4 separate regions of the Homo sapiens genome follow, and all the other regions are reported to be linked to region 3. The links are microRNA targets in miRTarBase. Many come from high-throughput screens and were not tested one by one. Region 3 holds a microRNA gene; each other region holds the end of a gene's coding sequence.
Evidence for each region. The annotated mature microRNA hsa-miR-3622b-5p reads AGGCAUGGGAGGUCAGGUGA and lies in region 3 at 3,509-3,528, opposite strand. An mRNA with a match to its seed (bases 2 to 7 or 8) in the 3' UTR can be bound and repressed. Matches are read on the target gene's strand: a 7mer-m8 pairs with bases 2 to 8, a 7mer-A1 pairs with bases 2 to 7 and ends in A, and an 8mer does both.

Region 1: the mRNA of CWC25 is a reported target of hsa-miR-3622b-5p. Seed matches in the 3' UTR shown: 7mer-A1 at 1,668-1,674.
Region 2: miRTarBase lists FLYWCH2 as a target of hsa-miR-3622b-5p. The part of its 3' UTR that is shown has no 7-base or 8-base seed match.
Region 4: miRTarBase lists EIF4EBP3 as a target of hsa-miR-3622b-5p. Seed matches in the 3' UTR shown: 7mer-A1 at 6,404-6,410.

The regions. Positions count from the first base shown.
Region 1 is chr17:38,796,345-38,803,461 of GRCh38, reverse strand. It overlaps CWC25 (CWC25 spliceosome associated protein), which reads left to right. Exons shown (of 10, transcript NM_017748.5): 9 at 601-762; 10 at 1,256-3,021. The coding sequence ends at 1,370. It overlaps PIP4K2B (phosphatidylinositol-5-phosphate 4-kinase type 2 beta), which reads left to right and starts at 3,906. Exons shown (of 10, transcript NM_003559.5): 1 at 3,906-4,196. The coding sequence starts at 4,038. RefSeq lists an enhancer at 3,911-4,729.
Region 2 is chr16:2,897,783-2,904,899 of GRCh38, reverse strand. FLYWCH2 (FLYWCH family member 2) reads right to left here. Exons shown (of 4, transcript NM_138439.3): 4 at 5,535-5,851. The coding sequence ends at 5,751. Among named protein-coding and RNA genes, the nearest start is that of FLYWCH1, 11 kb to the left of the region's middle. RefSeq lists a silencer at 332-561.
Region 3 is chr8:27,698,218-27,705,334 of GRCh38, forward strand. It overlaps MIR3622B (microRNA 3622b), which reads right to left and starts at 3,550; the gene lies at 3,456-3,550. It overlaps MIR3622A (microRNA 3622a), which reads left to right and starts at 3,460; the gene lies at 3,460-3,542. LOC124901920 (a long non-coding RNA gene) reads left to right here and starts at 2,753. Exons shown (of 2, transcript XR_007060869.1): 1 at 2,753-7,117. It also overlaps a transcript of SCARA3 not described here. RefSeq lists a silencer at 4,917-5,062 and an enhancer at 6,560-7,060.
Region 4 is chr5:140,548,608-140,555,716 of GRCh38, reverse strand. EIF4EBP3 (eukaryotic translation initiation factor 4E binding protein 3) reads right to left here. Exons shown (of 3, transcript NM_003732.3): 2 at 6,641-6,811; 3 at 6,141-6,483. The coding sequence ends at 6,455. ANKHD1-EIF4EBP3 (ANKHD1-EIF4EBP3 readthrough) reads right to left here. Exons shown (of 36, transcript NM_020690.6): 35 at 6,641-6,811; 36 at 6,141-6,483. The coding sequence ends at 6,480. It overlaps SRA1 (steroid receptor RNA activator 1), which reads left to right. Exons shown (of 5, transcript NM_001035235.4): 3 at 3,533-3,735; 4 at 4,548-4,656; 5 at 4,806-5,649. The coding sequence ends at 5,017. Among named protein-coding and RNA genes, the nearest start is that of EIF4EBP3, 4.5 kb to the right of the region's middle. RefSeq lists an enhancer at 6,985-7,109.

The sequences.
Region 1 (7,117 bases), not on the chromosome of region 3:
GACAGGGTTTCCCCATGTTGGCCAGGCTGGTCTCGAACTCCTGACGTCAGGTGATCTGCCCGCCTTGGCCTCCCAAAGTGCTGGGATTACAGGCGTGAGCCACCATGCCTGGCCCTATTTATTATTTTCTGAGGCTAAGTTATTCCTTCAGCTTCTGGCTTCTAGCTTAGTCCTAAAGTAGTGTACTCATGGGCTGTGTCATGAATTTCTAGTCTCCAATGGGTAGTTAGATGGTAGATGTTAACAGTTACATGGATAACCTAGTCTTCTGTTCTTCTGTCAATTGTTGAGCAAACCATTGGGATATAATTGCTACAAGTTTAGGTTCCTGATGAGTTCCCAATTTATTTCATATTTCATATTTCAGAATAATCACTCTAGAGATTACTGAGTGAGATTATGGAATACTTTACTAAAAGCCTTTGAAATTTGGATGAAACCTCCTGACCAGGACGTTAGAAGGGAACTCAGGCTGGCCTTGCACTTGGAGAGAGCAGTGAACTGGAGAGCTTGGGGTCCCACCTGGCTTCTGTGCTTCTTGTGCTGCTTCTGGTTTTTTTGCTGGAAGAGACCTGATCGTATGGTTTCTGTGCTCAACAGAAAACTCTCTGCAGAGGAATTAGAGCGAAAACGGCAAGAGATGATGGAAAACGCCAAATGGAGGGAGGAGGAGAGACTGAACATCCTCAAGAGGCATGCTAAGGATGAGGAACGGGAGCAGAGGCTAGAGAAGCTGGACTCCCGGGATGGGAAGTTCATCCAGTGAGTGCATCTTCTTCCTGCCAGGGTCTTTCATGGGGAAGGTCTTAAGAGGCAGGCTGGCAGCTGGTTCCCGTTCCAGTGTTTCTGTGTTTGCACATGGAGCCCAGCCTTCAGACCACCTTGGCTACTACTCTTCCTTTCTGACCACACAGTGGGATGTTTTTCATTTGAGGGGAGGAGAAGTGAATTTGGTATTTTCTAAATCATTGAAATTCCTTGACCTTCCTTTTTAATAAGAATTCATGGCCCAGGAAGCCTTTTTCCAATGAGGCTTTGACTTATTTTCCAAAACAGATACATTTTCCCTTATGGACACTGGTTTAAAAACATTTGGTTCCAGGTGGAGTCACTCGAAAGTTATCTATGGGAGCTTAAAAGAGGTTGTGTTTTTACAGCTGCTCTATGGCTAACAACCCATTTCTTCTGAAGCTGCCAGAATAGTTGACTGATTGAAAATGTTTTTGACTTGCATTTGCCTGTCTTCTCTTCCTAGCCGCATGAAGCTGGAGAGTGCATCTACTTCCTCCCTGGAGGATCGGGTGAAGCGGAATATCTACTCTTTACAGAGAACTTCGGTAGCTCTGGAGAAGAACTTTATGAAAAGATGAAAACTGTCCCCTCTCTTATTGGTTTTCCTGCATTTTCCAGGGAAGCTGCTGACCCCTTAATTCTCTTTATAAGAGTTCAAATGACTTCTTTCACAGATGTCAAACCACCAGTGTTCAAAGTGACCCTGCTTCATTGAGTCCTGAAACAGCTCACTTCCTTTGAGAGCTAGTGTGACTTGCTTTGTGGGACACTCAGTAACTTTGGGTTTTGACTCTTTAACGGGTGGGCACTGGACCATCTCGGTGGGAGTGCTTGTGCCACTCTGGAAGGCTGTTCCCTGGGGTTGTGATGTTTATCATGCCACTTCCTTCTTACCTGTGCCAACAGACCTATTTCACTGCCTCAGCGTACACCAGACCCTTCAGAAACCTCTCTGGTGTCACCCAGATAGATTGTGCTTACTGAGACAAATGAACGTTTACTTGATTTAGAAGATAATGTGACAGAATGATGTCAGGTTAGGTCAAAGCCAAGGGAGTGACAGAATCTGGAAAATCAAACAATACAAAAAGCCCTAAATGAACTGTTAACTATTTGATCTTTGGATGTAAAATTGTAATGCGTATATGTACAAATGTACAATTTTTACATGCTTTTAAAAAAGGTTAGCTTTGTGAAAATACCTTGTTTGGTCAATGACTTTACTGGGTAATAGAACCACATTGAACCTTGATGGCAAGTAATACAATAAGGCAGGCCAGCTCGTTTTTCTCTCTGAATCTGGCTGGTTTAGGAGGAGCCTGGGTTTATCGACGAGATCTGGAGTATCTATTCTTTTCCACTGCTTGCAGTCTCCAATGTAGGCAGTGTAAAGGTATAGTAAAATGATTTTAGGAGTCAGAACCAAATTGCCAATATGCTCCATGGCTCCTAAAGGAAAATAAAATGGAAGTTTTTATTTTGCGGCTTCACTTCTTACCGTGTAGTAACCTTACTACAATTACAGATTTTCAGGAGTTGTTTGCTAGTCTCTTTCAGTCAGGTACTAAAAAAAAAACAAAAAACAGGCTGGGCGCGGTGGCTCACACCTGTAATCTCAGCACTTTGGGAGGCTGAGGTGGGCGGATCACGAGGTCAGGAGATCGAGACCATCCTGGCGAACACGGTGAAACCCCGTCTCTACTAAAAAAATACAAAAAATTAGCCGGGCGTGGTGGCGGGCGCCTGTAGTCCCAGCTACTCGGGAGGCTGAGGCAGGAGAATGGCGTGAACCCAGGAGGCGGAGCTTGCAGTGAGCCGAGATTGTGCCACCGCACTCCAGCCTGGGTGACAGAGCGAGATTCCGTCTCAAAAAACAACAGCAACAAAACAAAACCCTCGAGGGGCCACTCTCCTGTCTTTACTCCTTTTCCCTTCTCTATTCTTTCACCAGAAGCCCTCATTTGACCAGTGAACTCCTAGGCCCTCTTGACCCGCACATTAGCTGGGCGATTTCCTTGTTCTGCTAATTCCTAATTCTGCTTAAAATGTATTTGGATTTCTGTTTTTGAACACTTATGATGCCAGGCACTGTAATGCTTGAAACCCGATCTTTCCCTAGAGAATGTAACATACGTTTTTATTCATTTAATCACTTCATTATGCCGGGGTTAATTATGTTTATTTTATAATTGGTAATAAAGGCCACATTTATTTTTGTAACTGTTTAAAGAGCGACCACCTGTGGAGTACCGTGTTTACGAATTTCCATGCAGAAAGAACAACGTTGACCTGTAATTTGTGTCGAATATATGGAGATCCCTCATCTGAGAATTATGTAACAAAGCGTGGGGCAGTTTACTCAAAGATTTTACGAAATGAGCCAGAGTAAGACGATTAGTGGGATAGGTGTCTGAAGGTGCTGGCGGCCTCTGAGCTCTGACCCTTTGCGGGGAGAACAGGCAGCAGGTGGGTGGGCGCGGGGCCCATTCATAAAAACCAGTGTTCCTGGCCTGCTTCTCTCATTGGCCCTGGGGGCAAGGGGCGTGCCCCGCGGGTGGAGCGCGCCCGGGGCCCAGCAGAGTGGGCAGATCCACGCTTAGGTGGAGCGAGGGGGCGTTCCTTGGCTTTCTAGGCTGGACTTTCTCTTCCCCTTGCTGCGTCCCTCCTCTCCCCCGGGGTGGGCATGGTACGTCCCGCCCTCCTCGCATTCCCGTCCCTCCTTCCCTTCCGGAGCGGTGGCATCGCCGCCATCTTGGCATTCGGGTTGCGGGAAAGAGCCAAACCCTGGCGTTGGGGGGCCCGGGCGGGGAGCCCCTCCCGCGGTCCACAGCGACGCCTGCCCAGCCCTCCTCCCCTTCCGGCTCCGGCACGGGGCCCCGAGGCGTTCGGAGGCCAGGCGGGTTTCTGTCAGGCCCGGGGAGGAGGGGCGGGCGGGGCGGCCGCTGCCTCCCCGGGACGGGCCGTACCACGCGGACGGGGAGGACGGGGCCAGGGGACTGCAGGGCGGCTGCACCGCCCGGGGGCGGGGTGCGGAGCGGGCCGGCGGGCTCCCCGGGGCGGGGCGGGAGGGCGGGGCGTGGGGCGGACGGAACCACCGGGGCGGGGTGGGAGGTAACGGGACGGGCGCGACCATGGCGCGGTGAGGGAGCGGGGGTGGGGATCGGTCCGGGGGAGGCCTGAGGCCGCTGGCTTGTGCGCTGTCTCCGCCGCCCCCCTCTTTCGCCGCCGCCGCCGCCGCCCCGGGCATGTCGTCCAACTGCACCAGCACCACGGCGGTGGCGGTGGCGCCGCTCAGCGCCAGCAAGACCAAGACCAAGAAGAAGCATTTCGTGTGCCAGAAAGTGAAGCTATTCCGGGCCAGCGAGCCGATCCTCAGCGTCCTGATGTGGGGGGTGAACCACACGGTAACCAGCTCCTGCGCGCCCCTCTGAGCGCGGCCCCGCGCGCTCCCACGCCCCCTGCAGCCCTGGGCCCTTGCCCCGCAGGCCCTGCCGGTGACGCCTGCCACCCCTCGCCAAGCCACTTGCACGCCCACCCCACCCTTGCACGCCTTTCGGCCCCGTGTGCACTCCCCGCACGCCACGCGAGGCCTGGTGTCTCTGTGGTCTGCCGTCGCCACCTCCCCTTCCCTCCAGCCCTTCTGGCTTCCTGCGTGTGGCGTGCTCGCTTGGGGCAGCCCATGGAGCGCAAAGGCAAGGCCTCAGTGCAGTGGAGTCGCTTTCATCCCTGCTTCTCCTCCTCCCCCCTCATCCTGTTTGTGAGGGTGTATATTCCCCCTTGTTCCTTACAGCCGGCTGCCAGCTCTGTCAAGTAGCAGTGGTCTGCCCAAATAGTCCTCTCTTTCTGATCGTTTGGTTGTTGTGGCTGCTCAAATTCTTCCATCCTCCAGGCCTCCTTACCTTTGAATGTAGAACTCCACCCTGGGTTTCCTTTTTTTTCCCTCTTGAACAAGATGTATCAACTGGAGAAGCACAGGCTTCCTTGAACCAGACACTTCACCTGGGTCTCTCTGGGTTAGGGAGAAGAAAGAATGGCTATTAACCATTTGAGAGAAGAGGATGCCTGGTTATAAGGAGGGACTATTCATAGTAGAAATAATATGTCTTCCCATAGTTTTTGAAGGTGATCATTTTAAAGATGTTGACTTATCTGTTGTGTGGCTGCAATGTTGTGATGATGCATAGTGATTATGGTCCTAGATAGGAGAGATAGGTCCCCTGGGTCCTTAGGGTGCTTTGAGATTGTTCAACAGCCCCTGCCAGGAAGTTGGATCCTGACAGTTTAAGCTGGAAGACTGTTTATGTGGTGTTTGTTCAGGGTCTTTATTCTCCCTCTTCCAACCACTTGCTCTTTGCCTTCTGACCATTTCTTTATGAATCCCCACACTAGGAATGAGCAGAGGAAGTAAAAGGACCCGAAACACCAACTTCACTAACTAGAATTTTGGAATAAGGAGGATCAAGCTTGGGTTTCCTGTGGATTTCAGTTCTTTAGGTTCACTTGTGAGTGCTTGAAATTGCTCACAAGACCAAGCGATGACAAAGAGGGCCAGCAAGACTTTGCATTGCTTTGGCAGAGGAGCTGAAGGTGCCTTTGGGTGGAGATCGATGAACCGTAATCTGAGCTAGGGTTTTAGATCTTGACCTGTCATTTAGGAAAGTGCATGTGTAAATTGAGGTCTCTGTGGTTTCTTGGTCTTGGGCAGGTTACTGTTTTCACTGTCATCACTGGTGTTAGTGAGGGTCCTGCCAGGATAGCGAGTACCAGTGGTATAATGCCCAGACCTCTAGGAGCTGCTTCGGGCCAACAATCCAGCCCAGTTTGTTACTCGGTCTTCCTGCTGTCCCAGGGGTCATCTGACAACATTTCTAGGGAAACTGGGTGATCAGAATATGAACCCCATGTCCCTTTCTGGAAGTCAATCCTTGATTTTGTTCTGCATCCTGCTTCTCACTCTACCAGGCCTCTCTCTGCTGGTTCTGTTTCTCACAGAAAGCAACCTGTCTGTAGAGAACTGGTAGAGGCCTGAGAGTCAGGAGTATTACAGCTAGCTGCAATGAACCTTGGGTCCCTTATTTTACACATGAAGAAAAGGAGGCCTCAGGTGGAGGATTAGCTTGCCTGTGGTTACAGCAAGAGATGTCGCTTATTGTCTAGCACCATGGGACTGTATCGGCCAAGGGTGGTGCCTGAGTGGCTGGTCTTGTTTTCTTTGCCTCCTGTTTCTTTTCCTCTCCCTCAGCCAAGTCTCAGGATAGATGCGAAGTATAGTCCGGTTAGAGAAGGTGAATATATGCTCTGGGTTATACGCCTATGCATGTCAGGTCCTGGGAGTGTGTGTGATGCATGGTGTTCCGATAGGCAGGCATGAGTCTGTCCATATGTGGTTATGAAGTTTCTCAATAGCTGATGGTTAGGTATCACGAGTCAGGAGTCCTGTGAGTCCTACTCTGTTGGACAAAGTGGTCATCTTTTTTCTTTGCTAACTTTAAGTTGAAAGTTTGTTTGAGGGGCTAGTTGGAAAGGCATTGACTTTAAGCAAGATCCGTGCCTCTGGACATAATGAACAGGCATCTCATGGGAACTTCCCACCACTGCCCTGGACAGGCTAAGCTTCAGAGGCCAGTTAGTCGTAAGTTTTATTGCTTCATCCTGGTCTGCAGTAAGGTCTGATACTTCAGTGTCCCCATTTGGGAACTGAGACATCTGCCTAGAAGAAGAGTGTAATCTTGCACTCGTCTAAGGGATCAGGACCACATTGCCCTCGGTGGACTGCTGCACTTTTTTGGAGATTTCCTCCCTTCAAAAAAAGCCTACTTTGTAACATTTTGTCATCTGAGATTTCAGATACCACCTTTTCTTTAGTTTCTCACCTGTTTAGGCATTTAGGCATGCTGGTCTGTGGCTAATGGTGTTTCAGATAGGAAGGATGGATATGTCTTTATCTACAGCAGAAGTTAGTTACCCTTTCATGAGGTGATTAGTTTACTTCTAGGTGGAAAAAGAGAGGACTTTGAACTTGGTGTTGTCACAGGAGCTGCTCTCATGGACAAGAGCCCATGGATTTTGTGGAGGAAGAATGTGTAGGAAACAAGGAGAAAAATCAGAAGACTTTGCACCTGTCAGGGAAGAACTAGTGAAGAGCAAAAACCAGTGTTTTAGTGGATGAAATACAGTTCCGAGGGTTTGGAATTAGGGAAGAGATGGCCTCAGAGAGGAGCATGGAGACCATGGGAGGTAGACCTGACTTGATACTTGTTGGCCATTTTAAGAACCAGGTATGTGTGAAGCCTTACCACAGGGATCAGAGGAGCAGGAGCAGTTG
Region 2 (7,117 bases), not on the chromosome of region 3:
CTCTTCCGCGCGCTCCTCGTCCCCGCATCCTCAGCCCCTAGATGTCCTCCGCGTTCTGTATCCCCCTGCACCACACCGCTCCCTCTCTCCCTGCCCTTCGCACTAGGACCCTCAGGGACCAAAATCGTCCAAGATGCCTTCCCTGGTGTCGAGTTTATGTTAAGGGGTTGGGTGAGGAGACCAAAAAGCAGTGGATGTGGTAACCACAGGGGCGCCGTGTGTCCGAGTCGGGCGCCTGTCGGAGGAAGCGAGACGGGAGGAGAGGCTGCGGCTCGCGCCCTGGGCAGCGACAGTGTGGACGCCATTGCAATTTCCCAACGGCTGCCACCCGCAGGGTCAACACACAGGCCCCCTCCACCCCTCCCAGTCGCCCACCTCCCATCCCTGCAGAAGCCACCTTAGAGCCGGTGTCTGGGCCGTAAGGAGCCCGGGTGGGGGTCAGGCGGGTGGGCGGAGCGGGACTGAGGCTGCGGGGCGGAACCGCACTCCTGGCTGCCAGCACTGCCTGGGTCCTGGGGAGGCTGCTGGGCCGCCGCTGAGTCCGCGCGCGCCCTCTCCCGGCCGTCAGGAGCATCGGCCAGAACGTCTCCAGATTCCGGCCCTGAACCCGGATGAGGCCCTGCCCAGCGCTCGGTGCTGTCCAAGGAAAATGAGACCTCGAGGTGAAAAGCGCAGAGGCTGTGCACGCTAGGGCCAAGCGGAGGACGCGTTATTACTGTTTTCTTCTTGATGATAAAACCAGGTGTTGACAAATGCCGGAGAGATCGGCATTCGCAGGACGTGGGTTGAATGTAACTTGCATTCTTCCAGTTCGGCAATCTCACTTCTAGAACTCTGTCCTAGGAACATACGAGGCTATTTCAGGATTGCTTACAACCTGGAGGCAACCGGGATGTGTCTGGCCACTGGAGCTAGTGGATTTCACGCATCCCTGCAGTGGGCATCAAGCAGCAAAAAGAATGTTGTGCAGCATTCATAAGAAGGAAGACATTTGTAACACATTATGAAAAAACATATGTGGGCCAGGCACGGTGGCTCATGCCTGTAATCCCAGTACTTTAGGAGGCCGAGGCGGGAGGATGACTTGAGGTGAGGAGTTCAAGACCAGCCTGGCCAACATGGCGAAACCCCGTCTCTACTTAAAAATACAAAAATTAGCCAGGCACGCTAGCGCGCGCCTGTATTCCCACCTACTCGGGAGGCTGAGTCAGGAGAATCACTTGAACCCGGGAGGCGGAGGTTGCAGTGAGCCGAGATCTCCCCACTGCACTCCAGCCTGGACGGCAGAGCGAGACTCTGTCTCAACAACAAATGTGTGGCATCACCTTGATTTTCTGAAAATAAAAAAATTTTAAAAATATATATTTTTTGGCCGGGCGCGGTGGCTCACGCCTGTAATCGTAGCACTTTGGGAGTCTGAGGCGGGTGGATCACCTGAGGTCGGGAATTCGAGACCAGCCTGACCAACATGGAGAAACCCTGTCTCTATTAAAAATAAAAAATTAGCCAGGTGTGGTGGTGCATGCATGTAATCCCAGCTACTGGAGAGACTGAGGCAGGAGAATCACTTGGACCCAGGAGGCAGAGTTTGTAGTGAGCCAAGATCGCACCACTGGACTCCAGCCTGGGCAACAAGAGTGAAACTCTGGCTAAATATATATATATAGCCAGAGTTTATATATACAAATATATAAATATAAATATATATAAATATATAAATAAATATATATAAATATATAAATAAATATATATAAATATATATAAATATGTATAAATATAAATATATATATAGCCAGAGTATATATATTATATACACACACACACACATATATTTTTTAAAATTTACCTCTAAGTAGTGGAATTACTGGAGGTAATTTGTAATTTTTGTCCCCTTTTCAAAATTAAAATTAATGACATCTACACTCAGCAACCACACACATGGGCGGGGGGCACCGTTCTTGGAGCTACTGCAATACCAGGTCGATGCATGGAGTGAACTAAGTAAGCTGCTATTGCAACCCCCTCCTACAAAAATCCACTTTATATACATTTTTTTAGACAGGGTCTCATCATGTCACCCACTCTGGAGCTCAGTGGTGCCATCATGGCTGACTGCAGCCTTGACTTCCTGGGCTCAGGCAATCCTCCAGCCTCAGCCTCTTGAGTAGCTGGACTATAGGTGAGCTCAGGTGATCCTCCTGGCTCAGCTTCCCCAGTAGCTGGGACTACAGGCACGCACCACCACACCTAGCTAATTTTTGTATTTTTTTGTAGAGTCAGTGTCTCACTATGTTGCCCAGGCTGGCCCCCACTGGGTTGGCCTCTGTCATACACCCCGCGGCACCCAGACTCCTCGGTGGCCCTTAGCCTCAGGTTCATAGACTCATCAGTCAGGGATTTCTATGTTTCCTCTGTGGCTCTGCGGGGGATGGGTTGTGACCTGTTTACCACTAGATCCCGGGAACCCTGCTTGGGCCTGTACATCAAAGTCCCCAAGAAGTGAAGGAGCAAGAAAGTGGCAGAATTTTTAAAATTTTCAATTTAATTTAAAAAATTAATGTTTTAAAATTTGTGTTTGGATTTAAAATGTGAATGGATATCCATAATTGCATTTTTTTTTTTTTGAGATGGGGTCTCGCTCTGTCGCCCAGGCTGGAGTGCAATGGCATGATCTCGGCTTACTGCAACCTCCACCTCCTGGGTTCAAGTGATTCTCCTGCCTCAGCCTCCCGAGTAGATGAGATTACAGATGCCCACTGCCACGCCTGGCCAATTTTTTGTATTTTTTAGTAGAGACAGGGTTTCACCATGTTGGCTAGGCTTGTCTCCAACTCCTGACCTCAGGTGATTCACCTGCCTCAGCCTCCCAAAGTACTGGGATTACAGGCGTGACCATGACCGGCCATAATTGCAATTTTTTAAACAGTTATTTGTTTTTTGAGATGGAGACTCACTCTGTCACTCAGGCTGGAGTGCAGTGGTGTGATCTCAGCTCACTGCAACCTCCACCTCCCGGGTTGAAGCCATTCTCCTGCCTCAGTCTCCCGAGTAGCTGGGACTAGAGGCACCCACCACCACACCTGGCTAATTTTTGTATTTTTTTTTAGTAAAGACGGGGTTTCGCCATGTTGGCCAGGCTGGTCTTGAAATCCTGACCTCAGCTGGTCCGCCCGCCTCAGCCTCCCGAAGGCAGGGATTACAGGCATGAGCCACTGCACCTGGCCTATTATTTCAATTTTAATATCAAATTGCTAACACTAGGCTGGGCACGGTGGCTTGTACCTGTAATCCCAGCACTTTGGGAGGCCGAGATGGGAAGATCGCTTGAGCCCAAGAGTTTGAGACCAGCCTGGGCAACACAGCGAGACCCCATCTCCTCAAAAACTCAAAAAAGTAGCCTGCCTGTAGTCTCAGCTGCTCAGGAGGCTGAGGTGGGAGGATGATTGCTTGAGCCTGGAAGGTCTGCTGCACTACAGCCTGGGCAACAGAGCAGGACCCTGTCCCTGTCTCGAAAAAAAAATAAAAATAAAAGTAAAAATAAAAAATAAAGAACAGGAGAGGGGCTCCGGGATATGGGTGGCAAAAAAAGGCAACATGGGGTCCTAACCTGGCCATTTTTGTCCTCACTGCTCACTGGGATGTGGTGTGGATGATGCTGGGTGATATCACGGAACCAGCGGCGATCCTCTCAGGCACACTCGCATTAACATGGCTATGACTGGGAAGGGTGTGCTCAGAGGTGCAGGCAGAATGGTTTTGGAGTCTGCTGCCTGCATTTGGATGGTTTGGCAAAAGAGAAGTGTGTGGAGGAGAGACAGAGGGAGGGAGAGAGAAAAAAGAGGAGAGAGAGAGGGAAGGAGAGCCGGGGAACCCAGGCCAGGGCGATACAGTATGCACTGCGTGCTCCTGCAACTTTTATGCTCCAAATGTTTCAAAATAAAACCAGAGGGTGAGGAAAACAGTGATGTGGCCAGGCCCAGTGTGCAGGCTCCAGCTCCCCAGTATGCGTCTCCCTCCCGGCCGACTGCCAGCGCCACTGAAAGACTCAGGCCCAGGGCACCTTTGTCATTCCCCCAACTCCACTAAAAGGTGGCAGCAAAAATGCTCCCCCGCTCCCGGCCCTGCTGCTCCACAGCCACCCCTCACTGCTGGGTAAGGCTTCCCAGGCAACAGCAGGAGGGGCCCGATGGTGCCACACTGAGTACAGGGCAGACGCGCCCCACAGTGACCCTGCCCTCTGACCCACCCCGGCCTCCTCTTCCTCACTCCCACTTCTTGAGGTTGCACCCGAAACGTCCTGCCCTGACATCCTCAGGTGTCCTTAACATCTGACAAGAACAGACAGCCAAGGGTACTTGGGAACAGGCCTGGAGCAGTGGCTCACACCTGTAATCCCAGCACTTTGGGAGGCCGAGGCAGGCAGATCACCTGAGGTCCAGAGTTCCAGACCAACCTGGCCAACATGGTGAAACCCCATCTCTACTAAAAATACAAAAACAGCCAGGCATGGTGGTGCGCACCTGTAATCCCAGCTACTTGGGAGGCTGAAGCAGGAGAATCGCTTGAACCTGGGAGGCGGCAGTTGCAGTGAGCTGAGATCACACCACTGCACTCCAGCCTGGGCTACAGAGTGAGACCCCATCTCAAAAAACAAAACAAAACAAACGAACAAAAAAACACTTGGGAAAGGAGAAAGCATGGTGGAGAACACAGAAACCATCTGAATATAAAATCAGGGCCAGGCATGGTGGCTCATGCCTGTAATCCCAGCACTTTGGGAGGCTGAGGCAGGCAGATTACCTGAGGTCAGGAGTTCAAGACCAGCCTGGCCAACGTGGTGAAACCCCATCTCTACTAAATATATAAAAATTAGCCGGGCGTGGTGGCGGGCGCCTGTAATCCCAGCTACTCAGGAGGCTGAGTCAAGAGAATCGCTTGAACCCGGGAGGTGGTGGTTGCAGTGAGTCCAGATCGTGCCACTGCACTCCAGCCTGTGCGACGAGTGAAACTCCGCCTCAAAACAAACAAACAAAACCCTAACATTGCCTTGAGCCCAGAGGCAGTTGTCAAAGAATGAGGACTCATGGGAAGCCTCCTGGAGGCTCGCTGACTTGGGAGCTCAAGTAGGGTAGCTGTGCTTCCTTCATCTCCCCTCCAGCAGGGATGGCACCCAGGGGGCCAGGGCAGGAACTCAGGTTTCCTCAGCCCACAAATCCCCTGGAAAAAACATGACAGGCAGGCCGCATGTGCTTTTGTCAGGTTCCTCCCTGAACCCACCCATGAGCTGCAGGCCTACCTCTCCCTCAGCAGAATCCTGGAGCTACCATTCTCAGCAAGCCTGAGCTCCCTTAGTGCCTGGGAGCTGTCAGTCTGGGAGGCTTCATGGAGGAAGCGAGACTTGGGTCAGGGAGGGCAGTGACTAAGGGGCACTTTGGAAGGGCCCAGTAAGGGCTGGGGTGCGGAGACCCAGGGGTGGTGGCATCAGAGCTGAGCCTCAAAGGACCCAGAAGCCTGGGATGTTTAAAACCTGCCCATTATGGGGTCTAGCGAACAGCTTCTTTTATTCTTGTTTGAAAGTATTTTTCTGCTTACAAAAGTAACTTATACTTGATCTAAAAAAAAAAAAAAAAAGAAAAGAAATCACACAATGTTAAAAGCAAAGATTCACCCATTTGGCCCCAGAAGCCCTGCGGACAGAGAAGAGCCTATGGCTGGGTTGGTGGCCTGGGAGGATGCGCCTGTTGTCAAGGTTACAGGGACTTGCCGGGCGCCACAGAGCAGGGGGCAAAGTTCTCCCCAGCAGCCTCAGGAGGCCCCGCTGCTAATCCACTGTCTTCTGTTCTGTCTGTGCCTGCGAGAGAAGAGGGTGGATCAGGCTGGTGTCAATGGAGATGGGAGGGCTCAGCTTGGCTGTTGGGGGTCTACCAGGCCTCACTCTCACCCCAACCAGTGGATGCTCCAGGGCCAGAAGCCTCTGCCTGACTGAGAAGTGACTGCCACTCAGGGACGCTGCTCCCAAGGCCACCAGGCCAGGGCCACAAAAGCTGCTAAAGTCATTTCCAGGAAACTTGAGGCCAAGTTTGTGCTGAGCACTGGGAAGCCGCAGCCATCGCCTCTGCTGGACCTGGGGTGGGGATGGAAGGATGGAGGAGTTGGCAGATGGGGGTGGTCGATGCCTGAGGGTGATTGCCTGCGGGACCCCTGGCGCCTGATGGAGCCCTGCTCTGCCTTTCATCTGGCGAAGATGGCTGTGCTCCAATTCTCACAAAGGCACCACGGCCCCAGGCCTAGATGGATCCCAGCAGTGAGCAGGAGTCTCAAAGGGGCTGGGAGGACCTTGAGATGGTCTCATTCCACAGAGCTCAGGTGTAACAGATCCTGAGCCAGACTCCAACCCCCTCTGCCCTCTGCAGGGACCTCCTGGTGGCCTCAGAGTGGCGACTTCGCTCCTCTGAGCCCTGCCTCCCACAGGCCATGGGGACTGCATCCTCTGCCCAAGGTTGGCAGGAGAAGCCAGGGGGACAGGCAGAGGCTCTCAGAGCAGGACTGGATGGTGGGGGCTTCGCAGTAAGAGCCAGGCACTCCCACCGGCTCTGGGAGGACGGGGTCCCTCTGAGTCCCAGAGCACTGCTCACACCAGGCCTGAGACTCCAGCAGAGGGATGGAGGCCGAGGGGTCCATTAGGTTCCTTGAAAGCTCCAAGCCTGTGGCTGCGGACACCACCATCTCAGGCATTCTGGGGTCTCAGCCCCAGGGAGGCTGTGGGGCTGTGACCCTCTGTGACCTCAGGCCACTCACCCCTCAATTTCCATCAGTGAGGCAGGGTCCCTGCACGGCCAGCAAACTGAAGGAACCTTTTCTCACAATGGGCTGCCAGGCTGAGTGCCCTGGCTGACCCCAGGGGACCACCTGTTCTGGCTGACCCCAGGGGACCACCTGTTCAGAGGTCACAAGCCAAGGCCACCTGCTACGCCTCTTCTTCTCAGGGCACGGCAGAGCCCACTCCCAGTTGGGAAGAAACCCCAACTCACCTTCTTCCCACCCACTGGGCAGCCCCCTGCCCCATCTCCCTGGAACTTCCAGTTCAAAAGGTGTACCCAGCCCATTTCCTCTGCTG
Region 3 (7,117 bases):
GGAGTGGAGAGCAGCAGAAGTGGTAAATTAGAACGTAAATATTAAAATGCATGGATTTTTTTCTCTCTGAATTCTCTTGAGAGACAACTGACTATTGTAAGGGAAGATTATTTTAAGACTATTTTAAGATAAGACTGGAGATTGGATTTATAATGTGTCAAGTTGATATGACAACAAGAGCACCAGGGATAGCTAATTGCAAATTTAATGGTGGAAGTCTAAATGTTTTCCCTTATAAACCAGAAATAAGGCAAGGATCTCATCTCCCAACACTTTTATTCTATTTGACTAGAGGTCCTCCCCAACGAAATAAGACAAACAAAGAAATACATATTGGAAGGAAAAATATAAAGCTGTATTTATTCACAGACAGCATAGTTGTTTGTATAGAAAATCCTAGGGAATTTACAAGAAAATGGCAATTATTAAAAAGTGATTTACCAATATCATAATATAGAAGGCCAATATACAAAAACCCATTGCATCTCTATATACTAGGAGCAAAAAATAAGAAAATTAAAATTAAGTAATCATTTAGCAACAGCATAAAAATATAAAATATATAGGAATGAATTTAGTAAAGGATGGGCATGATCTTTATAGTAAAAAGTACAGAATATTGCTGAAATTTTTAAATATCTTTATAAATGGAGATATATATATATAGTGGTATCTATCTATCTGTCTATCTATATATATATCTCATGTTCATGTATAAGAAAACTCACATTAATAAGACGTTCATGGCTGGGCACAGTGGCTCACGCCTGTAATCTCAGCACTCTGGGAGGCCGAGGCAGGTGGATCATGAGGTCAGGAGATCGAGACCATCCTGGCTAACATGGTGAAACCCTGTCTCTACTAAAAATACAAAAAATTAGCCGGGCATGGTGGCGGGCGCCTGTAGTCCCAGCTACTTGGGAGGCTGAGGCAGAAGAATAGTGGGAACCCAGGAGGCGGAGCTTGCAGTGAGCCGAGATTGCGCCACTGCACTCCAGCCTGGGTGACAGAGCAAGACTCCGTCTCAAATAAAAATTAAAAAAAAAAAAAGACGTTCATTTTCCTATATTCTTTTACATATCCTACACACTTCCAATCAAAATCCCAGCAGCCTTATTTTTCTTTCTTTCTTTTTTGTAAATGACAGAGTCTTGCTCTGTCACCCAGGCTGGAGTGCAGTGGCATGATCATAGTCCACTGCAGCCTTGACCTCCTGGGCTCAAGTGACCCTCCCACCTCAGCTTCATGAGTTGTTGGGATTACAGGCGTAAGCCACTGTGCCAGGCCTCGGCAGCCTTGTTTTTAAAGACACTGACAAAACTGATTCTAAAAATGTATATAAAAGTGCAAAGGATCTAGAAAATCCACAGAATTTTGAAGAAGAGTTCAGTTGGAGGGCCTATACTACATAATATCCAGACGTTCTCTAGGTCTGTCATGGAGGCTCACACCTGCAATCCCAGCACTTTGGGAGGCTCAGGCAGGAGGATCACTTGATCCCAAAAGTTCCAGACCAGCCTAGACAATATAGTGAGACCCCAACTCTACAAAAAATAAAAATTTAAAATTTCAGAAAGAAAAAAAAAGACTTACTCTAAAGCAGCAGTAATTAAGACAATGAGATAATGGTGTAAGGACAGACATATAGATCAATTGAACCACATTGAGATCCAGAAATAGATTTACACATATATATCAATTGATTTTCCCCAAAGACACCAATGATTTCAAAGTCTTTTCAACAAATGATTTTTATATGCAAAAAACAAACTTTGATATTACCTCATATAATACACAAAAATTCATCTGATATGGACCACAAACCTAAATGTAAAAACTAAATCTATAAAACTTCTTAAAAAATACATAAGATAATTTTTGTGACTTTAAGAAATATGGTCATGAAAGTCACAAACCATAAGAGAAAAATTTTGATAAATTGGATTATATCAAAATTAAAACCCTCTATTCTTTAAAATATCCCTTTAAGAACATGAAAAGAAAAAAAATCCCAGAATAAGAGAAAATATTTGCAATACATATATGAGACAAAGGACTTGCTTTCAGGATACATAAAGAACTCATACATCTCAATAAGAAAAAGACATGCAGCTCAAATTAAAAATGGATGAAAGTCCCAGCACTTTGGGAGGCCGAGATGGGCAAATCACTGGAGGCCAGGAGTTCAAGAACAGCCTGGCCAACATGGTGAAACCCTGTCTCTACTAAAAATACAAAAATTAGCTGGGCATGGTGGTGGGCTCCTGTAGTCCCAGCTACTTGGAAGGGTGAGGCAGGAAAATCACTTGAACCCAGGAGGTGGAAGTTGCAGTGAGCTGAGATCACACCACTGCACTCCAGCCTAAGCAACAGAGCAAAACTCTACCTCAAAAATAAAAAAAAAAAAAAAGATGAAAGACATGAACAGACATTTTGCAAGAAAAGTATATGAATGACCATGTAAGCACATGAAAAAGTGTTCCAGCTTCATTAATCATCAGGGAAATGCAAATGAAACCACTCTGAGATACCACTAGAATGGCTAAAATTTCAAAAACCAACAATACAAAATGTTGTGAGGATGTGGAGCAACGAGAACTCTCATGCATTAATGGTGAAACTGTGAAGTGGTACAACCCTTTTGGAAAAGTTAGGTGATTTCCTATAAATCTGAACACATACTTAACCTATGATCCAGCAATTTCACTTCTGGGTTTTTACCCAAGAGAAATGAAAATGTTTTTCTATACCAAAATTTGTACATACTATTCACAACAGCATTGTCCAGAATAGCAAAAAACTGGAAACAAGTCAAATGTTCATCAATAGGCAAATGCATGGAAAAATTATGATAAATCCATACTCACCAGTAAAAAAAAAACAAAAAAACTAGTGATATGCAAACCAACTTGGATAAATCTCAAAAGCACATTGAGTAGAGGAAGTCACTCAAAAGAGTACAGACTGTATTATTCCATTGAGATGATGTTCTAGAAAAACTAAAATGAATCTATAGTTACAGAAATCAGGTAAGTGGTTACCTGGGATGGGATGGTTAGGATGGGATTAACTACAAAAGAGAAATAGGGAAGTTTCTGGGGTGCTATAAATATTTTGATTGATTTAACAGTTACTGAGTGTATATATTTGTTAAAATTCATCAAAGTCTACATTGAAGTGTATGCATTGTATTATATGTAAATTATGCCTCAGTACAGTAGATTTTTTTAAAATGTTCTCGTAGCTCCCCATTGAACACAGGTGTCATCATGGCAAGACATTTCCTAGCTGAGAGATGCTTTTTCATTCTTTCATTCAAAAAGTAGCTTTTTCTTTCCTTCCTTCCTTCCTCTCTTTCTTTCTCTTTCTCTCTTTCTTTCTTTTCTTTCTTTCTCTTTTTTTTAGTGGCAAGGTCTTGTTTTGTCACCCAGGCTGGAGTGCAGTGGTGTGATCATAGCCAATAGAGGGTGCACAGGCACGGGAGCTCAGGTGAGGCAGGGAGCTGAGCTCACCTGACCTCCCATGCCTGTGCACCCTCTATTATATCACTCGTATGTCTACCATTGTTTGCAGATCGTGAGCTGCTTGATGACTGATGCTAGGGTGACCAACCAACCAAGTATGCCCCAAACCAAAGGGTTTCCTGGGCTTCCTGAGCTAAGGGATGTTCAGTGCTAAAACTGGGAGGCCCAGGCAAACGGGGAAAATGGGTCACCTTATCTGAGACCTTGTGCTACTCATCTCTGAAAGCATTCCCAGGCTTAGCCCCCTATCAGGTGGGTGATGTATGCTCAGTAAATGTTTCCTGAAAGGCTAGAATATGTGTGAGTAGGACACTTGAAATTCTCCTTTGGTTTCCCATGCAAACTGAGTCCTACAGTGAGAAAGCCAAGCGTAGTGGCAGATCCTGCCCCAGACACCAGGCTCGCTTGGGTCCTGCCTAGGGCGCCAGCCTCTCTCCCATGTCATTGGTGTTCTGGAAAGCAGATAAACAACTGACTTCAAGTCCTATTTAAGTTTTATGGGGTAGCCAAGGTCTTCCAGGGCTCCATCTCCAGGAAGCCCCCTCCCTGCAGCCTGGCTGGCTTTTCTTCTTCTTCTGGTGAAGTCATCCGACCCCAAGTGGCCCACAGTTTCCTTTCTCTCCACACCTCCCAAACCCGCTGCCCAGTCCTGGCACTGCCTGGGGTTACTGCTGACCTTTCAGTGCTGTTTGCTCAGAAAGTGCCTTTATGTCAACACAAACAGCCTTCAGGTTTGCCAGGGCCTGGCTCCTTTTCTCCCTGGGGTCCAGGGTAGAAAAACAATAACCAGTGGGAAGGAGAGCGAGCCATAGGGGAGTGACGCGTCCCTGGACCTTGGGTCTCTGTCCTCTCAGCCCTGTCCCTCAGGGCCTCCTTTGTCAGAACTCAGTTCTGTGGGGAGAGGGTACTGGGGAGGCAGCGGCTTTAAACAATGCCACAGTGTCTGGCAGGGAGCTGCGTGCTTGACCTGATTAGGCTCAGTGAGCCCGGGGGAGGGAGGGAGTGAAGGCAGGCTTGGGAAAGTGTTTTCCATCCCCACCCAACAGACTTTGCTTCCTTGTATCTCTGCCAAGACCTCTTTTTGGGGAGGAAAGGCCGAATCGCCTCATTTCTACAGGGGCACCTTGGCCTCGCTCCTCTAAACCTGGGTAAGCTCTTTGACCTGCCTGTCCCCCTCCCTCTTGTCTTTCCTTCCCACCAACCAGCTCCCAAACAGAAAGTGTTTTTCACACTCGCAGCTCTCCCTCCTCAGGCCCTGCCAGGCCCGAAGCTGGGCCCAGAGGCCAGCTGGCACCCACATGAAAGGCCTTCCTGTCGAGAACTGGCATGGAACCCAGGGCCTCAAGGCTGCCCACACCACAGCCCTGGCCCAGGGTCCAGAGCACAGGGCCACGGAAACTTGGCCACAAGGCTCTGGGGAGAAAAACAGCCTGAGCCGCACAGGAGAGGAGCCTCCCATCCCCGCAGCCTGGCTGGGCACATCAAGGGAGAAAGCGCAGTGCCCAGAATCCTTTGAACATGAAGCCGCAGCACCTGCACCTGGCAGAGGACCCGGGAACCAGGGATTCGTGCTGGGGGCAGCACTTGGGGTTTGTTAGTGCAGGTGGAGAGAAAACAGGAGAGTAGCAATTTCCAACCCATCAGCAGAAAAAAGTGAAAGCTGAGAAGTCAGGGTGAGGCTGGAGGGGACAGGATGGGGTGGCTGGGTGGGCCCAGAATTGAGATCTGATTTGCAAAATGGTGGCAAAAGGCAACAGACTGCGGCTCCCTTGAGAGAAAAACCTGGTCTCCCAACCGGCAATGGGTGTGGTTATCAAACGCACAGCCATGCCTGTTCCCAGGATGCAGGTGCAGTCTGGATAAACTGAGACTAGGGTTGGGGGGGATCTGTTCAAGGTTGCACAGCACCTTCAAGATGGGGCTTGAACTACAAACCCAGGACTCCGGACCTGGAAAGAATCTCCTAGGAGGTTCTGGAGGGTTCATTCTTGGACAGAAATCTGGGAGAACCTACAGCAAAATGGCAACAATGTGATTGTGGGTAACTTAAAGTTTGTGGTTTTGTGTGTGGTTTTTTGTTTTTTGCTTACCTGTGCTTTCTACTTTTTTTTTTTTTTTTTTTTTTTTTTTTTTACAGTGAGAAAAAAATACCTGTGGGGAAAAAAACATAATGGAAAATAAGAGTTTTGATGAAATGATACACTACACATAAGGTGTTAAGCAGGATGAGGGGCTGGCATTTAATAATGGATAAATAAAGGTTAAAAGTAATTAGCTTAAGGGGAGAGAGGGCAAGGAAGAGGAAGCAGAAGGAAGGGAGAAAGGGGAAAGAGGAACATCCAAAGTAAGGAAGAAGTCAAAGCTAAAGGAAAGGAGTGAAAGAGGGAAAGGAGAAAGAATATTAACAAGAAGAGTGAATATTGGCCAGGTACAGCAGCTCATGCCTATAATTCCAGTGCTTTGAGAGGCAGAGGCAGGAGGATCACTTGAGCCCAGGAGTTTGAGACCAGCCTGAGCAACACAGCAAGACCTTGTCTCTACAAAAATTGAAAAAATTAACCAGGCTTAGTGGCACGCATCTGTAGTCTCAGCTACTCAGGAGACTTAGGAGGAAGGATTGCTTGAGCCCAGGAAGTCAAGGCTGCAATGAGCTATGATTATGCCACTGCACTCCAGCCTGGGTGACAGAGCAATACCCCACCTCAAAATGTATAATAATAATTTTAAAGAATAAATTTAATTTTTTAAAATAGTGAATATCTTCACGGATTCCTGGATCTCAGTGCTGCCTCGCAAAGACAAAATAAATATCAAAGTATCAGTCATCAAGTTAGCACACTCCTCACCTTCCTTCAGGTCCGTGTGAAAGACCCTGGGTTGGGCTGGACTAGAGGGAAGTTTCCTGAACTAGCTGTGGTTCCAGCTGTGTAGACAGTTAGTTGGTTACTAACAGCATTCACAGAGCGTCTGCAATGGGGGTTGTTTCATATGACTAGTTTCTAGGATTCCATCACACACACACACACACGCACACACAGAAGACACTGGGCACCTCATTTCAGAAGCGTCATGCCTACTGTTTGGAAATGAGTGTTCTACGTGTCCTCTCTGGAGGGAGGCTGAGCTGGAGATGGGAGGGAGTCTTTGCTGCCAGCGCCCTGCAGGGTAATCCAACCATCCTTGGTGACATCATGTTTTCTGAGTGGATGTTTGCTTCAGAAGCTGCAAAATAATCTCAACTTTCAGCCCCAACTTCTCCCCAGGAGGGCAGCATCCTGTGAATTTGGCCAAAACGGAACTCACACCACAGCTCATTAAGGGAGCAATCAGCGAGGGTACCAAAATGCTGCCTCCCTCACACTTTCCACCCTGCATCCCCCATCAAAACTCTCATAGCCTGTGTCTCTCTGGGTGCCAGAGGGAGAGAAAATGCATGTTCCAATGGGGTATTGAGGAAGGGAGAGGAGAAAGAGGGGCAGGTCGAAGGAGCCTGGTAGAGAAAGGGGGTGACCCCACCTGGCTCCCTCCAGGGCTGGGGTCTCTTGTGACAGGCACTGGGCTGATGGAAAGCAGCTGCGGGACCTTGGCAGACC
Region 4 (7,109 bases), not on the chromosome of region 3:
GCTGTTACTTTTGGGGAATGTTCTAGGCCAGAATTAGAGAAATAAGTCACCATTACAAGGATGGTATTTGATGTCATGGGCTTGAATATGGCCAGGGACAGAGCCGTAGGGCACTCTAGCATTTCAAGGTTGAGAAGGAATCAGCAAAGGAGATTGGGAAATGGCCAAAGAAGAAAAAAGGAGAGGCCAGGCGCAGTGAGTCACGGCTGTAATCCCAGCACATGGGGAGGCCAAGGTGGGCAGATCACCTGAGATCAGAAGTTCAAGACCAGCCTGGCCAACATGGCGAAACGCTGTCTCTACTAAAAATACAAAAATTAGCTGGGCCTGTAATACCAGCTACTTGGGAGGGTGAGACAGGAGAATCGCTTGAACCTGGGAGGCGGAGGTTGCAGTGAGCCGACATCGCACCACTGCACTCCAGCCTGGGCGACAGAGTGATATTCTGTGACAAAACCAAAATAAAAAAAGAAAATAGGAGAGCGTAAAGACATGAATCAATAGTAATGAATGCTGCTGAGACATCAAGATAGAGACAAGGGGCCAGGCGCAGTGGCTCACGCCTGTAATTCCAGCACTTTGGAGGCCAAGGCGGGTGGATCACGAGGTCAGGAGTTCAAGACCAGCCTGGCCAACGTGGTAAAACCCTGTCTCTACTAAAAATACAAAAAATAGCCAGGTGTAGTGGCGGGCACCTGAAATCCCAGCTACTCGGGAGGCTGAGGCAGGAGAATCATTTGAACCTGGGAGGTGGAGCCTGCAGTGAGCCGAGATCGCACCATTGCACTCCAGCCTGGGACTCCATCTCAATAAAAAAAAAAAGAGCGACAAGGAACCAGTAGATTTGACAAACATAGCAGTCACTCGTGATCATAACAAGAGCAAGTCTCTGCAGTAGTGAGAACAGAAACAGCTGGAATGGGCTGAGGAGAGAATGTGAAAAGTAGAGAGAGTGACTATAAAGAGCTCACTCAAATGCTGCTGCAGAGATAAGAAATGGGACAGTATCTGAAAATGGAACATGAAGTAAGGGAGTGTTTTGATAGTAATATACTAGAGCATGTTTGTACACTAACGGGATGATTCAGTAGAGAGGGGGAGCTGATGATGCAAGAGAAGATAGTTACAGTAGGGAAGTCTAGAGAAGACAAGAGAGGCTAGGATGCAGAGTACAGCTGGTAAGATGGCTTTTGATAGGAGCAGGAACCTTTTCATCTATTACAAGAGGAAGAAAAGTGGCCACAGATGCAGGTGGGTTAGGAGGAATGGTGGTGGGAAGATGAGAGAGTTCTGTTTAATGACCTCTACTTTTCAATGAAACATTAGGCAGTGTCAGAAGAAGATAGCAAGGAAAGGAAGAGAAGTTCTGAAGAGTGGAAAAAATGAGCCAAAATGTCCAGGCAGTATTTGGTACCTTTTAAAATCTGTGGCCATGAATTTAAACTATCAGCATGGCTCTGTTTTCCCTCCCAAGTGCAAGCAAGTTGGGTTTAACCAGGAAAGTGGGACAATGGGAGGAGATAAAGGAGGTAAAAATATTTATAAGGGGGTGATGTTAATGTACATTGAAATCAAAGTAGCTGAGCTGGAAGGGGTAAGGGGGTGATCAGATTTTGGAGGTGATAGTGTGAACAAGGCAGGGGGATGACAGGCTGATGTAGGGTGGGAAAAAATGATCACTGGAGGTGAAGAGGTCAACTGAAACACCAAATTATTAGATGAATTAATCATCCTTGTGGATGTTGGTACCTAAAAGTAAACTTTTGACTTTTGTCTTCCAGTCTTCTTTCTGTTAGTGGTTCCCATTACTAAGTCAGAAACTACGAGTCACCTTGACTTCTCTCTTCCTCACTCTCAATCCACTCCTGTTGCTACTTCCTCCTAAGTAAATCTCAGACTACTCCATTCCCCTCGTCTACTCTTTTACCCTAGTCCATGCCAGCATTATCTCTTTCCTGAACTACTCAACCTCTCAACTGGTGTTCCTGCCACCACTGTTGACCTGTTTTCATCAGTTTTTCACAGAGCATACATGTTTAAAAATAAGTCTGGTCACATCACCCCTTGCTTTTACAAACCTGCAGTGGCTTCCCAGTACCATTGACTCAAGATCAAACTCTTCCAAAGCCCCACAGGGTCTGGACCCTCTGCTTACCTCTCTAATGATAGCTCATACTACTTTCTTCAGTGGTAATAATTTTTAGCCATACAGGCCTCATTACTGTCTCTTGAACAAATCAAAAGTTTTCCTGCTTCTTGGGCACTGCTCTAACCTCGACCTAGTACATGTTCCTTCAACTCTTCATAGCTGCATCTATCTCATCCGGTAGTTCTCAATTTAATAAAAACAGCTCATTTTGTACTTTTTGCTACATACTAGTCTAGCAGCTGTCTTTTTTTTTTTTTTTTAAGAGGGTCTTAGTATGCTGCTCAGGCTGCTCTCAAACTCCTGGGCTCAAGCGATCCTCCTGCCTCTGCCTCCCAGTGTGCTGGGATTAGAGGCATGTGTCACCACACTCAGCCTGTACCTGTATTCCTAATCTTCATTGCAACCTTGTGAAATAAGTGGCATTATATTCATCCCCATTTTACAGAAGAGGAACCTAAGCTCTAGTTGAAAGTAACTTGCTGAAAGTCACATAGCAAGTGAGCTCAGATAAACTTAAATGTACCTCAGAAGGCCTTCCTTGAACACTTAGTCTAGATAGGTTCTCCCATTTCTCTTTATTGCATAAACCATTTTATTTCTTGGTAGCATGTAACATAATTTAGTAATTTTGTGTTTTTTTCCCTGCCTCTAGAATTAAGCTCTCTGAGGTCAGGAACTTAATCTGTCTGGTTTACTTCCTCCTGAGTAGCCAGGACTATAGGTGTGTGCCACCACACTTGACTAACTTTTAAAATTTTTTTATAGAGATGAGGTCTCACTATATTGCGTAGGCTGGTTTTGAACTCCTGAGCTCAGGTGATCTTCCTACCTTGGCCTCTCAAAGTGTTAGTATTACAGGCATAAGCCACTGTGCCCAGGCCTGGTTTACTTTTCTTTTCTTTTTTTTTTTTTTTGAGACAGAGTTTCACTCTTGTTGCCCAGGCTGGAGTGCAATGGCACCATCTCAGCTCACCACAACCTCTGCCTCCCGGGTTCAAGCGATTCTCCTGCCTCAGCCTCCTGAGTAGCTGGGATTACAGGCATGTGCCACCATGCCCAGCTAATTTTTGTATTTTTAGTAGAGACAGGGTTTTGCCATGTTGGCCAGGCTGGTCTTGAACTCCTGACCTCAGGTGATCTGTCTGCCTCAGCCTCCCAAAGTGCTGGGATTACAGGTGTGAGCCATCACACCCGGCCACCTGGTTTACTTTTCTAATCTTTAGTGCCTAGCATATTGTCTGGCGTAGAGTGGGGACTTCATAAATGCATATTTTTGAATGAATAAGTTGTCTCAGAGAGTAGCCCTTCTTAGAAGGGGTGAATTTAGAGTTAAGCTTCTTACCCATTTAAGCCATGTTGCTTGATCCTGCTGTACCTTTTCAGTCCCCGCATCAGAGACTTCTCCTGGGCCTCCCCCAATGGGGCCTCCACCTCCTTCAAGTAAGGCTCCCAGGTCCCCACCTGTGGGGAGTGGTCCTGCCTCTGGCGTGGAGCCCACAAGTTTCCCAGTCGAGTCTGAGGCTGTGATGGAGGATGTGCTGAGACCTTTGGAACAGGCATTGGAAGACTGCCGTGGCCACACAAGGGTAAGCTCTGGCACATCAGAGGTTAGAGAGGGCTCCCATCCACAGCCAAATGCAGGAATGGTTCCCAGAGATAGACCCTCTGACCCAGTGGACAGGTTCTTAATCCTTTGAGAGTTACGGACTCCTTCAGAATCTGCTAAGGCCTTCCCAAAGAAATGAACACAGGATTTCAGGAGCATTAATAAGACTTTTGAAGACCAATCAGTAGAAGATGCTGTGGGAACAAGAGTTGAATTCAGCTCCTATTAGTGAACAACCTGATTTTCTGTATCTCCATGCCATTCAGAGCAGAAGCTGCTGATTTTATTCTCAGGAAATTTATATTGTGCCCAGTTAGGGAGAAAGAAACCTCTTCTAGCTATAGTGTTTTCTTAGTTCTTAGAAAAAGAGATCTGAAGAATGTCTTAAAAGAAAGGGAAAGTAGCATGGTCATTTCACCTCTTTGGCGCTTAGTTTTCTTTTTGTGAAGTAACGCTACAGGATGAGCTTCTGAGAGTCTGAGAAGCCCCTGAAATTTTAGAATTCTAGTCATAGTAGGAGGTGGGTTAGGAAGACTGGTGGTGGGAAGATGAGAGAATTCCTGTTTAATGACCTCTACTTTTCAATGAAACATCAGGCAGTGTCAGAAGAAGACAGCAGGGAAAGGAAGGTTTCATCAGTTTCTCAGTGGGGCCTCTAATCTTTGGGTAAAGAACCAGAATTCTAAAGTGTGGGCCAGAGAAAGCAGGTGCTTCCTATGTGGTGCTGTCTTCCCCTCTCCTCCCCTCATTGGGCTGGCAGCACTGAATTGGAGGGGGGCTTCTGTCTCTTAGAAGCAGGTATGTGATGACATCAGCCGACGCCTGGCACTGCTGCAGGAACAGTGGGCTGGAGGAAAGTTGTCAATACCTGTAAAGAAGAGAATGGCTCTACTGGTGCAAGGTATGGGTGGGTTCTTTGGTATAGCCTAAATCCCTTTCCTGCTGTGGTTGGCTATGCTGGAGCAGGTGCTGAGATTTTGATTGACTGGGAGGGGAGGCATGGAAGCTCTTGTACCACAGGCTGCTTGCTCAACCCCCGTCTCTCTTCAGAGCTTTCAAGCCACCGGTGGGACGCAGCAGATGACATCCACCGCTCCCTCATGGTTGACCATGTGACTGAGGTCAGTCAGTGGATGGTAGGAGTTAAAAGATTAATTGCAGAAAAGAGGAGTCTGTTTTCAGAGGAGGCAGCCAATGAAGAGAAATCTGCAGCCACAGCTGAGAAGAACCATACCATACCAGGCTTCCAGCAGGCTTCATAATCCTCGGTTCCCCAGACTCACCGGACACCATCTCCTATGCCTTGGAGACCTTCTGTCACTTGGCTCCCTTCTTACCACCACCAAGACTGTCCCACTGGGCCTGACCCACCTATGAGGGAAGAAGTCCCACCTGGGCCAGAGGGAGTTCATGTGTTACTCATAACATGCATTTCAATAAAAACATCTCTGCGGTGGGCCTTGGGTAGGAGAGATGAACCCTTCCGGTGCCAAGCTAGTCCCCTCTGGTGTCCTCGACTGCCCTGCTCCCTGTGTATCTGCAAACCTCTGTTCTCCCTTCTCCATTCATCAGGAAGGGATCTGCTGGGTAAAGTCAGACTACTGCCTACCACTTTTTCCCAAAGTAGACTGAAAGCACATCCTGTGCTGGGCGGAGCAGCTGTGTTTGGATGGTTTCATTTCAGCATGAGAACAGACTCAAATAGAACGGGGAGACTTTTCCCTCAACAAAAGGAAAGACAGTCCTATTTGCACTGTATCACCCTTGAGATACTACTGTTACAGAGATTAGAACCACATTGAGTGGGGTTTTCTGTGTAAATCGAAGGAGAAAAAGACCAGATTACTGAGATTGGGGATTGTAACTCTGACTTGCCAAACAAACTGCTGCCTCATTTTGGGTTTCAGTGTGAACTCTAAGGTCTCTTGTAACCCTTTGAGAGAGGTACTTGGTGGACTATCATGCTGTGAGAAGGGTACAAGGTTTTTGGTGTTGGAATAGAGGAACTGGTGCTTAGAGGTGGGAAGCAGAAAAGGCACAGGGAGAGACAGGATGGCTATAGGCTGGGACAGCACCTCTTTTCCAAGAGTCCTGCTTTGGAATGGATAGGGGAGGGGCTGCTGGGGGGCCCTGGTTCCAGGAAGGCTGCTTCCTGGGAAGACAGGAACAGCCCTTGGCAGTGGCCAAGCTATTGCTGTTTATGGTTTGGAGGCTCATGTAACCTGCCACTGTAGCGTGCCTCAGGTTCTAATTGCTGCTGGAAGTGGGCCTGGTGGGAGCTGGGAATGATCTGAGGCCTCTGAGCTTAACCAGGCCTGCCAGGGCCTTCAGCTGTGTGGCTGAGATGAGAAAATCAGCATTGAGGAGAACACTGGAGCCAAGGCATTTCTTTGAATGTTTACTAAGCAGTCAGAAGGTGACTTACTCCATTCCCCAGTTCCAGCCCCTGAGCATAGAGGGTTTAGGGTTAGGAGGAGTACCACAGACTGAAGAGGAAGTAGAGTTAAGGGCTTGGCAAGTTGCCCACTCCTATCCCTGGTCTAGCTGCCTCAGAACTAAAGGAGGCCTGGAACTAACAAGTCACTCCCTTCCAGATTAGATGAGGCCAGCTGGCCTTTGGATGCCCCAGGAAGAGGTGGTGGCAGCAGTGGCATGAGGGATCCCTCTGTAACTCCACATGCCAGGTCATCTGCACTGGATTAGATGTCCATTTCAAATTGTGCGTCATCTGGAGAGAGAAAAGGCAGGAAGACAGGTTGCTGGTCTGAGGATCTGCAGGCTCAGCATCAGTGCAGAAACCCCTCTTGGAACTGAACCCCCGCACTGTGTCACAGTGGCATTTGAACTCAAAGGCTGGGACAATTCTTAATTCCTGCTTTCCTTACCGGGTATCTCTTCCTCTGTCTCCTGCTCCTTCAGCTCCTCCAGCTTGGAGAGAGGGGCTGTTGGAGGAGTTGTGACCCCGGGAATCTGAGGGAGGCAGCAGGGGGGTGTCCGGGCAATGGGTGAGTTCTTGCACTCCAGCAGGAACTTTCGGTCGTAGATGATCCTGGTGCCTGTCAAGGGGTTGGGACTGAGGTAAGAGTCAGGAGCTTGGGTACCGAGGTGACTGGGGTCCCAGACTCAGGCCTTTTGGGGCCTGGAGGTGAGGGTGGTGTCAAATTTCCCTGTGTATCAAAGGACATCGGCTCTGAAGCCCAGCTAGGTTCTCAGCAGACAAGCCTTCATAGTGCTTAAAATCTTCCAGACCTAACCAAGATGTGGGTATAAAGCAAGGGGGGCATCCCAGCTGGTATAGGCAGGGGCTTTATGTTTGGGAGAGCTTCAGATCTTGGCTCTAAGAGGAACACCAAA